Regions from separate parts of the Homo sapiens genome. Here all the other regions are reported to be linked to region 4. The links are microRNA targets in miRTarBase. Many come from high-throughput screens and were not tested one by one. Region 4 holds a microRNA gene; each other region holds the end of a gene's coding sequence.

Region 1 (3,142 bases), not on the chromosome of region 4:
ATTATCCTGCCTTAGCCTCCCAAGTAGCTGGGACTACAGGCGCCTACCACCATGCCTTGCTAATTTTTGTATTTTTAGTAGAGATGGGGTTTCATCATGTTGGCCAGGCTGGTCTCTAACTCCTGATCTCAAGTGATCTGCCTACCTCACCCTCCCAAAGTGCTGGGATTACAGGCATGAGCCACCACGCCTCACCAAAAATTTCAATTTTTCAAGAGGCTTTCTAGATCACCTCAATCTAAATAAAGTCCTTCCTCTTACATTCTTTCAGAGTACCCTATATTTTACCTAACACTTACCATGGTTTGTAACTGTACATATTGTGTGTTATTTATGGTGGTTTCTCCACCAGCCTGTAACCTCCAGGAGTGCAGGGGACCACCGTGCTTTGTGCAGCACGATATCCTCAGCACTTGGTACAGTGCCTGGCACCTGGCAAGGGCTCAATATAGATCTGCTGTGGGGTCGGGGGTGGGCAGATGGTTTTTTCTTTAAAATGAGCGGTTTGATCTTGGGACTAGTGTCCACACCATCTAAGGGTAGTAAAGGTTGAAACATAAAATTTTAGTACAAAAACCACAATAAGAAATGAAAGTTAGGCCGGGCGTGGTGGCTCACACCTGTAATCCCAGCACTTTGGGAGGCCAAGGCAGGTGGATCACGAGGTCAGGAGATTGAGACCATCCTGGCTAACACGGTGAAGCCCCGTCTCTACTAAAAATACAAAAAAAAAAAAAAAAAAAAAAAAAGTTAGCCGGGCGTCGTGGCACACTCCTGTAGTCCCAGCTACTTGGAAGGCTGAGGCTGGAGAATCGCTTGAACCTGGGAGGCGGAGGTTGCAGTGAGCTGAGATCGTGCCACTGCACTCCAGCCTGGGCGACAGAGCTAAACTACATCTCAAAAAAAAAAAAAAAAAAGAAAGTTATCTTTTTCTAGTGATATAAATGCATAGTGGAGCTAAAGACAGAACCTATGTGGGTTACACAGAAAGCCATCGATTTGAGATCTGCTCATAATATTTAAATAGCTTAAAGAAGAGGTGTTTACATCTATTTTTATGAAATTTATTTCCAAATTGAAGAGGCAGTGTATATAAAGGTAACAGAGCTTGTGATAATTTACAGAAATGTTTGCTACAACATGCACATTATGAAGTATTTCAAACATATACATATTAGGTTTCATGCTGAATAAATAATCCCCCCAAATTAATTTTTATTTTTACATAAAAATATAATATTGCACTCTTAACAAGACCAGTTATTCTGCATATTTTCTCTTTAGATAAATGATGAAATTCGGTTTTTAAAAAAAGATGAGTAGCAACCCTATTCTAATAGGGGACTAATTTAAAGTTCTCAGTAAAAAAATGAAAGCTAGACAATAGCTGCAATTTTTTGTTAACAAAGCAAATCACTTCAACGTGAATAGGAGTAATCTCATCTCTGCACCTCCATGGACCTCAGGATTCACACCTGGCCTGAGCACACGGTGATCTAAATGCAGCCTAGGTATCACTACATGTGTATGCAGTTTAAGGTTAAAGCATACATGGCCACGTGCTTTCTCTCGAATCTATCTTGACAGCAGAGACTTTGGAATTATATTTTATATGGTTTTTAAGCAGAATGTTTTAGAAAGTCTGGAAGTTACAAAAGTAGTACTGTAAACACCATATGAATTAAATTTCCATAACAAATGCACAAGTTATTCTTAGGCAGGGATACATATTTTTATCCCATGGTAACATATTACTGAGCTTATCTGACAGTGTTTTCAAAGCCAATAAAGCAGCACCCCAAGTAAAAATATACAGACAGCCATCATATGGGAGAGACAGACGGCTCCAAGATGTTTAGGAATTCTGTCTTTATGGTATGTAAGTTTGCTGTGGAATACACGAGATTTTATTATTCTTCCTAGAATTCTCAGATGGTATAGGTTAGTAGAAACAGAATGAAATGGTTTCCTAAAAGAATTATTCTGCCTCCTGTTTAAAGTAAGCTTTTATAATTCTGTTTTGGGGAAGAAAATTCTTCCTGCAGATTAGATCAAATGCCTTATTTAGGCTGTGTTCTTAATACCCATGCAAACTTCTTGCATACTGAAGGCTTTCTATTGCAAATTGGTACAGATTCAATGCTCTGTAAATAGCAGACTTTAAGACTTACCATTGTGTTTAAACCTCAGTGACTCAACTAAGGATAGTCAATATCTAGCGTTACAGATTTTAAGTAAAATTTTTATGAAGAAACAGAATGTGTCTGAAATCCAAGATACCTGTATTCTTGTTTGTGGCTGTCAAAAAAATTCTGGTTCTCCTTTGAGCTAAGAAAGCAACTGGCAAAAACTGCCTAATTTTGAGATTCATTCATAGTTTATTTTAGTATTTAGATATTCCATAAAATATTTGGTACAGAGGCACCTACTGAATAATTTGCTTCTCAAAGAAAGCAATTATCAAGTCCTAAAAATTATCTTTTTTTCTTTCCTCTTTTGGAGCATGTGTGTGTGGTGGGAGGAGTATTTCATGGCAGTAAACTTTTAAAATATAATTTTAGTGTGTTTTATATAAACAATCAACCAACCAATTTAAATTCTACTGGTCCTTTTGGAATCATAGAAAAAGGGGAGACCTTAATATTTTCTTTGGAATACCTTGGTGGGAAAAAATTTTAAGAATATCATTTTAATGTACCATGCGAGGCTTAAAACTTGTTGGCTAGTGCATATTGACACAATCTTCCAGATTATCACTAAAATAGAACAGAACTTTCCTCTTAGGATCATGTGACTCTTCAGAATTTTGTGCAGATGAATAGACTTTATCATTATTTGGATGGTTTGTCCAGTCATCCATTTCTTTAGGTTCAACCTCCTAAAACTGGTGAAGTCAACAAATCTAGTTTGGAGTTAAAGTGCTTTGGAGAACGTGAAGTTCATTCGCATTCACCCGGCTGCATAGCTGCTAAGGAAGGAATAGAACATTGGCTGTTTCAAGCGCTGCTGGTCCTTCCGACACCAGGCAATCACGGTCCCATCACTGTTTGCTGTGTACAAATGGTGGCCATCACAAGAAAATGTAAGGCTGTAAAAAAAAAAAAATTCCCATTTGTACATTATATTTCTTAAAAGTGTATTA
Region 2 (3,000 bases), not on the chromosome of region 4:
CTAGTTCCAAACCTTTTACTGACTCAGTAGGACTAAATGCCAGATCCATTTTTCTCTCTGCTTGACAAAACACGCTTAAGGTGCATGTGCTTAAAATTGAGAAATTACGTAAGTCAACCCACCAGGCAGGCAGCCAGCCATCCATGTTTCAACTCTGTAAGATGTCTGCTACTGTCCGCAAAATACCAGAACACTCCGGAGCGTCCCTTTGCCACCAAGACAGCTTTTTCTACAGAATTTCAATTCTTGTGTTTTCCAAACATGCTAGAACCACACCAAGAAAATCTCATCTGGATTGGCTCTCCTCTCACAATGCCTGTTGTTGTCTTTCTAATAAAGAACCACACAAAACAACATCATTCCCAAGTATAGACTTTATGTTTTACTTATTCCATTGAAAATCCCAAGTTCCTTCATGGCAACCCTCCCTCTGCCCTCACACCCCAGCAGGTCCCCGCAGGCCAGGGCCCATGCCCCACCTGCCCACGGGTCTGGCCCCCAGGCCACCAGGGGCCCGCTGCGTCCTGTCTCACACACAAGGGGTTTAACTCAACGCTATGTACATTCACAGTTCCGAATATCCGCCAACTCTAAGTCGCCACGAAGAGAAAAGAGAATCAGGAGGAACAAACATCCATTCAAAGTCTGTTTATCAGAGATTTTTTTTTCTGAAAATGCACAGTGGCATTTCATTCAAAAAACCCTTCATCTGCAGACCTGCGGAAGGGAGGTGGCCTGGGTCCCTTCCCTCGGAATATCTTAGTTTATTTACCTCCTTCATTGGCCATTTGCAGGCTCTTCTCCTTGAAAAATGAATCTTTACGCATTCTCCAATTATAAAATCAGTGACTGTTAGCTACCAAAGGCTGCACTAGGATTTCTTCTGTGTCCAACACGCCAAGAGCCCTGAAATTGACTTCGGTTTACTCCATCCCTGTCTGTCCTGCTGGCAGTGTCCATGCTAAAAAACAAGTCGAGGTGATTGATTGAAACGGAGCTGAAGGTTGTTTTTAAATGTCTGTCAGTGGAGAAACGCGTATCACGAATCTCTGAGGAAGTTAGTAAACATTTTTTCCCGTACTTACTGGCCTTGGTGGTCACTTTCTATAGAGATGCCCCAAATATAAAAATCAATTCATTTCAGAAATCAAAAAAATTTTCCAAACAAACCCGGAGCCTTTGCTTTAGGAAGCAAACTCAAGTCTGTGATGATTATTGTGCTTGAAGGATGGGTTTCTAATTCTGTCATAAAAAATGATGAAACAAGGTGATGTCAGAGGGACTTCAGGTGACACCAAAATACCCCATCCAGGGCCTGGAAGCCCCTCTGCCTTTGACTCTAAGATGGGGCAGGACCCCCGCTCTCAGTGGGATGTGCCCGCGACCCTGGCGCTGGGAGGCAGTGCTGCAGAGAGGAGTGGTGTCCGCACGGCTGTCACCAGACATCCTCATCACCCTCCGCACCGCACAGCCCAGCGTCTCCTTCCACAAGCAAAAGACTGCGGCTCCTCTCTCTGCAGGAAGGTCAGCCATACTCGGGTGGCAGCGTGACGCCAGTCACCATGGAAACCAGGGCTGACAGGAAGATGCAGCCGCTTCCAGCAGGGACCTGGCCTGAGGGCAAGGGAGGAGCGGCACGGCGGCGGCTGCCTTGCGCTTCCAGCTCGGGCCCTGCTCATTTGAACAATATCCAACCTCGGACTGGAGTTTAGGCTACAGTGAAATGGATTACGTTATGCCGAAACAGAAACATCAAACTGCCAACGTTTATAAAAAAAGAGGGGACTGGAAAAGGATTAAGAAAAGCAGAAAAAGTGTTTTGGGGCTAGGCCCTTGAGTTCACACCTCCCCAGGGGACCCAGCGGAAGGAGAGGGATTACCTGCTGGAGAGAGGCCTGATGGAAATTTAAGTCAAAGCCCAAACAGCCTCAGATTCTATATTAAAAAAAAAAAGGCCTATAAATAAATATCCTTTGACTCTAAAAGGAAAAATGAAGTAGAAAAACAATTTTCATTTTTTAAAAAATGCTGCATGTTTCCTGAAGTACCTAAATGGAGTTTATAAAATACTCATGAGCTCCAGCACACAGGTAGAAACACTGAAAAATCAGGTGACGGCTCGGCTCTGCCAGGCTGTGGATCCACAGAGGCAGACAGGTTTCGTGCCAGAGTGACACGCAAGCGCACGCTGTGTGGCAGGCGTGTGCTGAGTGTGCACGGAGGCCCGCCCGGTGCACGCTGCCGCCGGAAGAGGCTGTGACAGAGACTCGAAACCAGGGCCCCGTGGGAGAACACGGGGCGGCACCGGTGCCCCCCGCCCGGCAGGGAACCTGACCCCACGGGGTCCAGGCCAGGCGGGGGATCCGCGTGCGCGCCCTCCGATTCTCGCACAGTAAGCGTCGGTTCTGCAACACACTTCACAAAGGAACAAGATACAAACAGCCCCCGAGGCCCCTGGAACTCGGGCTGAAGACAGTGCCTGTACAGCAGGAGTGAGGAGCGGAGCCCAGAGGTCACTCGCAAAGAGGCTCATGGCGGTGATGTCCACGCGGGAGGGGCCGCGTCTCTCCGCAACCCTGGGTCCTAATCCAGCTTCTTGCGAACAGGCTTCCGCCCAGCGTCTGAGTTTTCCGGGCTGAAATCGGCACAGAAGCCGTTTGGGATTGGCGCAGGTGAGGTCTCTGCACAGCTTTCGAAATGTGTCTGATCCGGGTACAGGTATTCCTCTGCGAAGGCAGGGTACATTTCTGCAAACCTGTGGAAGTCAGCTGGAAAGACAAAGGCACCTGTGGTTATGGAATGGGGACGAGCAAATGTCTAGGATTTGGAGGCTCTTTTCCCACGGCCCTGGTGGGTGTCCACCTCACGCCCTCCAGGGAGGGTTAGAATCGTCTGTGAAACGGATGCTTTCAGGGTGGAGAGAAGAACTTGCGCTTACTTTCTTTGCAGCGCACGAAGTCACCCTGACAACCGGGGCAGGCTGGGTGTCCTCCTAGCTAC
Region 3 (3,142 bases), not on the chromosome of region 4:
CTCACAAGCACCCAGGTGCCTCTCTGCCTTGCCTGCCCCGCCCTCCTTGGCATCCTGGACTCGTGGCTTCTCTGCCCATTTCCTATGGCACCCAGCAGGAGGCTGGGCAGAAGATAGTGTCTGTGGGACACCTGCCCTTGCCCTGGTCACAGTGCCATCCAGGAGTCCCCATACTTGCAAAGTATGTTTGCACTGTGTGAAAAACTTAAAGCAGAAACATAAGAACAAAAGTGGACACTTCTCAAAAGAATAAAATGTTTGCATAAAAGGCAGAAAGACAGGGATGTCAACAGTGGTTCTCTAGGTCACGATGGCGGGAGCAGCATTCCTGCTGACAAGCACTCCTGCCCCGCGCAGCCACGCTGGGCTGCCGCCGCCTGTCAGCCTGTCTACAGGAGGCTGCAGAGCGGCCGTAAATGCCTTTGAAATAGCATCACAGTTATTTGTTAGGTCATCTCCTAGGGAGATGATACACAGTTTTCAATCCCAGTGAGTCTTTCTACCGCTTGTAAAATAAAATTAAATTACAATGATTCAACTGTTGAACAAGCTTATAGAGTCATAAAAGAACTATGATTTTCTATCTCACCCTTCCGTCTGGCAATCAAAGATCACACGTAGAACTTCTACACATGACCAAGGACCAGTACTGGGGCCTCCTTCCCACCTGAAACAAGGCAGGACTTCACTGCGAGGGGCTCTGAAAAGGAGATGCTGCAGGGTGCCACCCCTGAGTCCCACAGTTAGGGTCCTTTGTAGCCCAATGTCCCCAAGTCCCTCCAGCATGCCTGGGACTGAATGGTCCTGAGCGGCTGGGGTAATTTTCCTGAGGAGGTGGCACGTCATCTAACACACATGGGACAGAACCATGGCCCCCTGGTATGCTTCTTGGTGGTGGCAGTGGGGCAGGGACTCTATCTTAGCTCAAAGCCAGGGCTCTCATTACATGGGTGGGGAGCTGTGTGGCTCCAGAATCAATTACCTTCCCAGACCAGGCGCGGTGGCTCATACCTATAATCCCAACACTTTGGGAGGCCTAGGCAGGAGGATTGCTTGAAGCTAGACGTTTGAGACCAGCTTGGGCAACATAGCAAGACCCCATCTCTACCAAAAAAAAAATTTTTTTTTTTTGAGACAAAGTCTCGCTCTTGTTGCCCAGGCTGCCCAGGCTGGGGTATAATGGCGTGATCTTGGTTCACTGCAACCTCCGCCTTCCAGGTTCAAGCAATTCTCCTGCCTCAGCCTCCCAAGTAGCTGGGATTACAGGCACCCACCACCATGCCCAGCTAATTTTTGTATTTTTAGTAGAGATGGGGTTTCACCATGTTGGCCAGGCTGGTCTCGAACTCCTGGCCTCGGGTGATCCGCCTGCCTCGACCTCCCAAAGTGCTGGGATTACAGGAGTGAGCCACCATGGCTGGCCTACAAAAATTTTTTTTTTACAAAATTAGCCAGGCATGTTAGTGTATACCTGTCATCTCACCTACTCAGGAGGCTGGGATGGGAGGATCGCTTGAGCCTGGAGGTCAAGGCTGTGGTGATTGCACCACTGCATTCCAGCCTGGGTAACAGAGTGAGACCCTGTCTCAAAACAAACAAACAAAAGTAACAACTAAACAAAAGAGAATAAAGTACTTGCTCAGGAGGATAGAGAAGGGCTAGGGGAGAGGGCAGAAAAGGTTTGTACAACTTAGAGGGCATGAACAGCAGCAGCACCTTGTTTTTTTTGACCAAACAAGAAAAGGCCCCCAGAGCTCACGCACAGCTATCATCAGGGCCGGTGCCATGGCCTGGCTCCTCGGGTGACACTTCCCCATCTGACACATGGCACGAGGGCTCAGCTGCCCGCCCAACCCTTCCAGCACTTCCCAGCTGCAGATCTAGGAGCTGGAAGGCAGGCCTGCTCAGCAGGCCACCTACTCACCAGAGCAGTGGGTGTCATAGAACTCATCTCAGTGGCAATGTGGCCAGAGAACATGCCCTGGCTAAAACAGATTTCAGCAGCACGTTATTAAAATAAAGCACAATGGGCCAGGCGCAGTGGCTCACACGTGTCATTCCCGCACTTTGGGAGGCCAAGGCAGGAGGACAGATTGAGGCCAGGAGTTCAAGACCAGCCTGAGCAACATAGCAAGACCTCATCTCAACAAAAAAGAAAAAAATTAGCTGGGCCTGACAGTGCACACCTGAGGTCCCAGCTACTCAGGAGGCTGAAGCAGAAGGATCTCAAACATGTTTGAGGCTGCCGTGAGCTATGATTGCACCACTGTACTCCAGCATGGGCAACAGAGTGAGACCCTAGCTCTAAAAAAAAAAAAAAATTAAAAAATAAAGCAAAATGTTATCAATGGATTAAACTATGAGACCATTTATTTCTTCCCTGCCCTGCAGCGTTCAGTGGGCTTACGCACCTCCGGCTGCCACCATGGGCTGCCCTGCAGGGAAGGCCTGTGTGAGGCAGACCTTTCAGGCCAGAGGAGGCTACACCACGGGCTCCCGCAGATTCTAGCAGGTGGGGGCATGAGACTTCAGGTCATAGGAGCAGACATCGCAGCCGTCCAGCAGGTCTGCCTGAGAGACGCCATTGAGGCTGGGGGCAACCAGAGCTCTGGGGTTGTCCTGCACGCCTGTCCTCGTGAGTGTGTCCTGGAGAAGTTCTCGGATTCTTCGGTTTTCCCTGAAGGTAGATTCCCAAATAACTTCAAGTTCACCTTCCATTTCTCTGAGGGAAATAAGTTTAAAATGGCACAATTTTAAAAATAATATAGAGCCCATATGAATCCCAAAGTAGCAAGAACTCAAAACAGAAGAACGCTATCAGCAGGGAACAGAGCCCTCGGTGCCTGGGTTCTGAAGCAAGCGCTCAGTGTGGAATGAAGCAGCTGGTGCCCTGGGAATGGGGAGCAGCAGGACAGCCCAGGCTGGGGCTCAGTGTGGAATGAAGCGGCCAGTGCCCTGGGAATGGGGAGCAGCAGGACGGCACAGGCATTTCTCTTCCCTCTATGTTCTGCCCTTGACTTTGGCGCCAGTGCAATCCCTGTTTTCTCTCAAGAATGAACTTGGGCGTGTCGAATAAGGAACTGCAGGAACTGCAGGGCTGGCCTTGGCCAGCCAGACGCTCTAGCACGATGGCCTGGCCACA
Region 4 (3,142 bases):
CTATTTTGTCAACCAGTTCTTCACACAGTTCAAGTCACCTCACTGCATGTCCCCAGATGTTTTTCCACGGCCAAGAGCCAAAAACACAACACAAACAAAGGACAAATAACCAAAGTTCCAACACCAGGCAAACCCGAGGTTTCAGGGGTTGGTGGGTTTTTGTTTTCGGGGAGTAGAAGCAAACGCACTAGAGGAATAGATAAGAGACTTTAAAGGAGAGTTTAAGGAATTCCAGCAAAAAACTTGAAGAGGACTAGAGTGGGTCCACATTATGTTGCATCGGTCAGGGAACAAAAGACCGGCCATTGGGAACACATCCACAAAGATCCATCTTTAATGAAATGGTGTTTGGGAGAGGAACAGGGGCTTCCTGCGCCACCGGGCCAAACCTCCGCTTCCCACCTCCCCAGGGGCAATTCTAGAAGTCAGGCCCCGTTCTCCCCACCCCCAAGCTCAAGGTTGCCGCCCTGGAAAGCACAGCAGGGCAGGCCTCGGTAAGTGGCAGGGCTTGGCCCATGGGTAAGCCGGGTCCCGTCTGTCCACTCAACCCAGGTCGCCGGGGCGCGGTCCACGTCTGCCCAAAGGGTACGGACCCCAAGCAGTGACCGACTCACACTTCCGAGAGCGTCGCTATTTCTCCAGCGAAGTGCGGGGATTTCCCGAATCACCGCACGCAGCCGGGGCGAGCGCACCTCACCACTCCTTCTCCAGCGTGGACCTGAGAGGCAGCCTGGCCGGAGCGCACGCCAGCCCGGGAGGAAGCCGGCCTGGGGCGAGGACCGGGGAGAAGACGCTGGTCCCGGGGGCCGAGAACTGGGACTTTGTAGGCCAGTTGATCCGACACCCTCATCTCGCCCGCAAAGACCCAGCCCTCAGCTCCCATCCTCGGAGTTCGGGGTGCGTCCCCGACGGGCTTCCCGGGGCTGGGTCCGGTCGCCGGCTCTGTGCACCGCGCTCCGCTCCGCCGAAGCTCTGGGTGTCCCTCAGGCGGCGTTCCCCGGGAAAGTCCACCGCCCCGCCCGACCTCGGGTCGCGGGCTCCAAACCCAGCCCTCCAAGGGTTACACGACGCTCGGCGGCCTCCACGCCACCCCCGGGCCGCCTCGGCTCAGGCCGAGGGACAGCGCTGGGGGAGGGGGAGGTGCGGGGACCAAAGCCTCCCCACCGCAGCCCCACTCCCGAGTGGGGCGCAAGAGTTATGCGCCGAGAAACTTCGCCACGCTCCCACGCCGCGCCTGCGAGGCCCAGCTCCGCTCTGCCTCGGTTACCTGCGCTCAGCTCGGCGGGCGAGGGGCGCGGGGCGCGGGGCAGGAGCCGTGGCCGACCTCTCGCAGCAGGCCGCACCCTCCCGCAAGGCCGAGCCCGCACCGCTGCCTGGGCACGGGGGCCATAGCCGCTAGCCGGGGCCCGCGCCCCGACGTTCCGGGAGCCCCTCGAACTCCTGGCCGGGGGCCGTGGCCTCGCTCGACCTGCCCGGGACCTGGGGGCCGCCGCCGCCCCCTCCGCTAGGAGAGCGAGCCCGACGAAGCCGGGAGAGGAGCGGGGCGGCGAGACCCCTCGAAAGTTGGGGGGGTCGGCTTGCTCGCCGCGGCCCGACCTGGCTCCACGTGCTGGTGACACATCAGGAAGGCTGCGCGCCCCGCGGCTCCCGGCGGGCGGACGCGGCCAGCGCCCGCCCGCACCGCCTCCCGGAGCCGAGCGGACGGCGCCCCGCCCCGGCCCGCCCTTCGCCCGCCCCTAGGCGGCACCGCCCCCGGCCGCGACGCCCGCTCCAGCCTGCGGCACCGGCGGGAGAGACCCTGACGGCGGTGGGGGGTGGCCCGGGTTCCCAGGTCCCGGGTGGCCCGCACTGCCCCGGGGATGGGGTCCCGACGCGGGCGGCCCTACTCGACAGTCTGGAGTGCCTTCCTCCCAGTCACGCAGTCCTTCCCGCCCCGGAGCCCAGTAATTTTCCCTTTTCCTCCTTTGACCCGTCCGAGCAGCTGCCAGCGCTTCCTCCCGCGGAGACCGGCGCGGGGAGCCCCCTGCCGGCCGCTCCGCTCCCGGGCCGCGCCCCCGCCCGGTGGAGCGCGCCTGCCGCCGGCCTCAACTTCCCCATCTAGAACCTGGAGCCGCCGGGCACTTCTGGCAGGGCTTTGGTGGCAAAGATTATAAATTAAAGTGCCAAGCATAGTACCGGGCAGCATACTTTCTTGAGATGTTAAAATTTCGTGCTTTCAACTCCCAGTTCCAGCGGCCTGCAGACAACCTCTCTTCCTGGCTGTGCTGTTTGAAAAGCTGAGTTCCTTTAGGGAGACTGTGGAAAAGGAGTGGGACAGAAAAGCTTTGAGGCTGAGTAAGAGCTGTCCCAAGATTAGCGAGGGGTGGGAGGTCAGTGGAATCCCCTTGGTGGAGACCTGCTGCCCCACTGTCTCTCCGGAGACGCCAGGATGTGGGAGAGTAACTGCGTGTCTCCTCTGGGACCTGAACCAGGCCTCTACCAAGATCCCCAGCCTCAAGATGGCCAGGATTCCAGGCACCGTGGGTGATGGGGAAGCCCAAATAACCACTGAGGTTGAGTTTCCCAACCTCTTCAGGTCGAGATTTGGAGCCATTTAAAGAAAATAACGTGACATATCTGTTTGTGTCCCGACATAGATATTAGCTATGTTCCTGCCTTCTCTTTCCTGGCCTCACCAACCCAGATCATGCCTTTAAATCTCACTATGAGGCTGGGCACGGTGGCGCACACCTGTAATCCCAGCACTTTGGGAGGCCAAGGCAGGATTGCTTGAGCCCAGGAGTTTGAGACCAGCCTGGGAACATAGTGAGACTCTGTCTTTACAAAAAGTTAAAAAAAAAAAAAAAATTAGCTGGGCGTGGTGGCACACACCTGAGGTGGGAGGATCGCTGAAGCCCAGGAGTTAGAGGCTACAGTGAATTATGATCGCACCACGGCACTCCAGCCTGCGTGACAGAGGGAGACCCTGTCTCTAAACTTCACTTTGGTAAGGGTTGAGTGGTATATCTGGTTTATCTGATCCCCACATCGGGATCCCTGGGTAGGACATGTCCAGGAGCTGGTGCTCCCAGGAGTGCGTAGCTGGGGGAGGGATGGCGGCCAAGCGCTGGCAGAGATGCCCAGTGCTGGGGCATGGACAGCG

The links. The annotated mature microRNA hsa-miR-193a-3p reads AACUGGCCUACAAAGUCCCAGU and lies in region 4 at 813-834, opposite strand. An mRNA with a match to its seed (bases 2 to 7 or 8) in the 3' UTR can be bound and repressed. Matches are read on the target gene's strand: a 7mer-m8 pairs with bases 2 to 8, a 7mer-A1 pairs with bases 2 to 7 and ends in A, and an 8mer does both.
Region 1: the mRNA of LYST is a reported target of hsa-miR-193a-3p. The part of its 3' UTR that is shown has no 7-base or 8-base seed match.
Region 2: miRTarBase lists LPCAT1 as a target of hsa-miR-193a-3p. Seed matches in the 3' UTR shown: 8mer at 1,083-1,090.
Region 3: the mRNA of CEP89 is a reported target of hsa-miR-193a-3p. The part of its 3' UTR that is shown has no 7-base or 8-base seed match.

What each region holds. Positions count from the first base shown.
Region 1 is chr1:235,659,991-235,663,132 of GRCh38, forward strand. It overlaps LYST (lysosomal trafficking regulator), which reads right to left. Exons shown (of 53, transcript NM_000081.4): 53 at 1,051-3,088. The coding sequence ends at 2,950. Among named protein-coding and RNA genes, the nearest start is that of GNG4, 12 kb to the left of the region's middle.
Region 2 is chr5:1,461,068-1,464,067 of GRCh38, forward strand. LPCAT1 (lysophosphatidylcholine acyltransferase 1) reads right to left here. Exons shown (of 14, transcript NM_024830.5): 14 at 360-2,768. The coding sequence ends at 2,584. Among named protein-coding and RNA genes, the nearest start is that of SLC6A3, 17 kb to the left of the region's middle.
Region 3 is chr19:32,876,657-32,879,798 of GRCh38, forward strand. CEP89 (centrosomal protein 89) reads right to left here. Exons shown (of 19, transcript NM_032816.5): 19 at 1-2,722. The coding sequence ends at 2,506. Among named protein-coding and RNA genes, the nearest start is that of SLC7A9, 8.5 kb to the left of the region's middle.
Region 4 is chr17:31,557,742-31,560,883 of GRCh38, reverse strand. MIR193A (microRNA 193a) reads right to left here and starts at 888; the gene lies at 801-888. RefSeq lists an enhancer at 1,085-1,875 and a silencer at 1,617-2,106.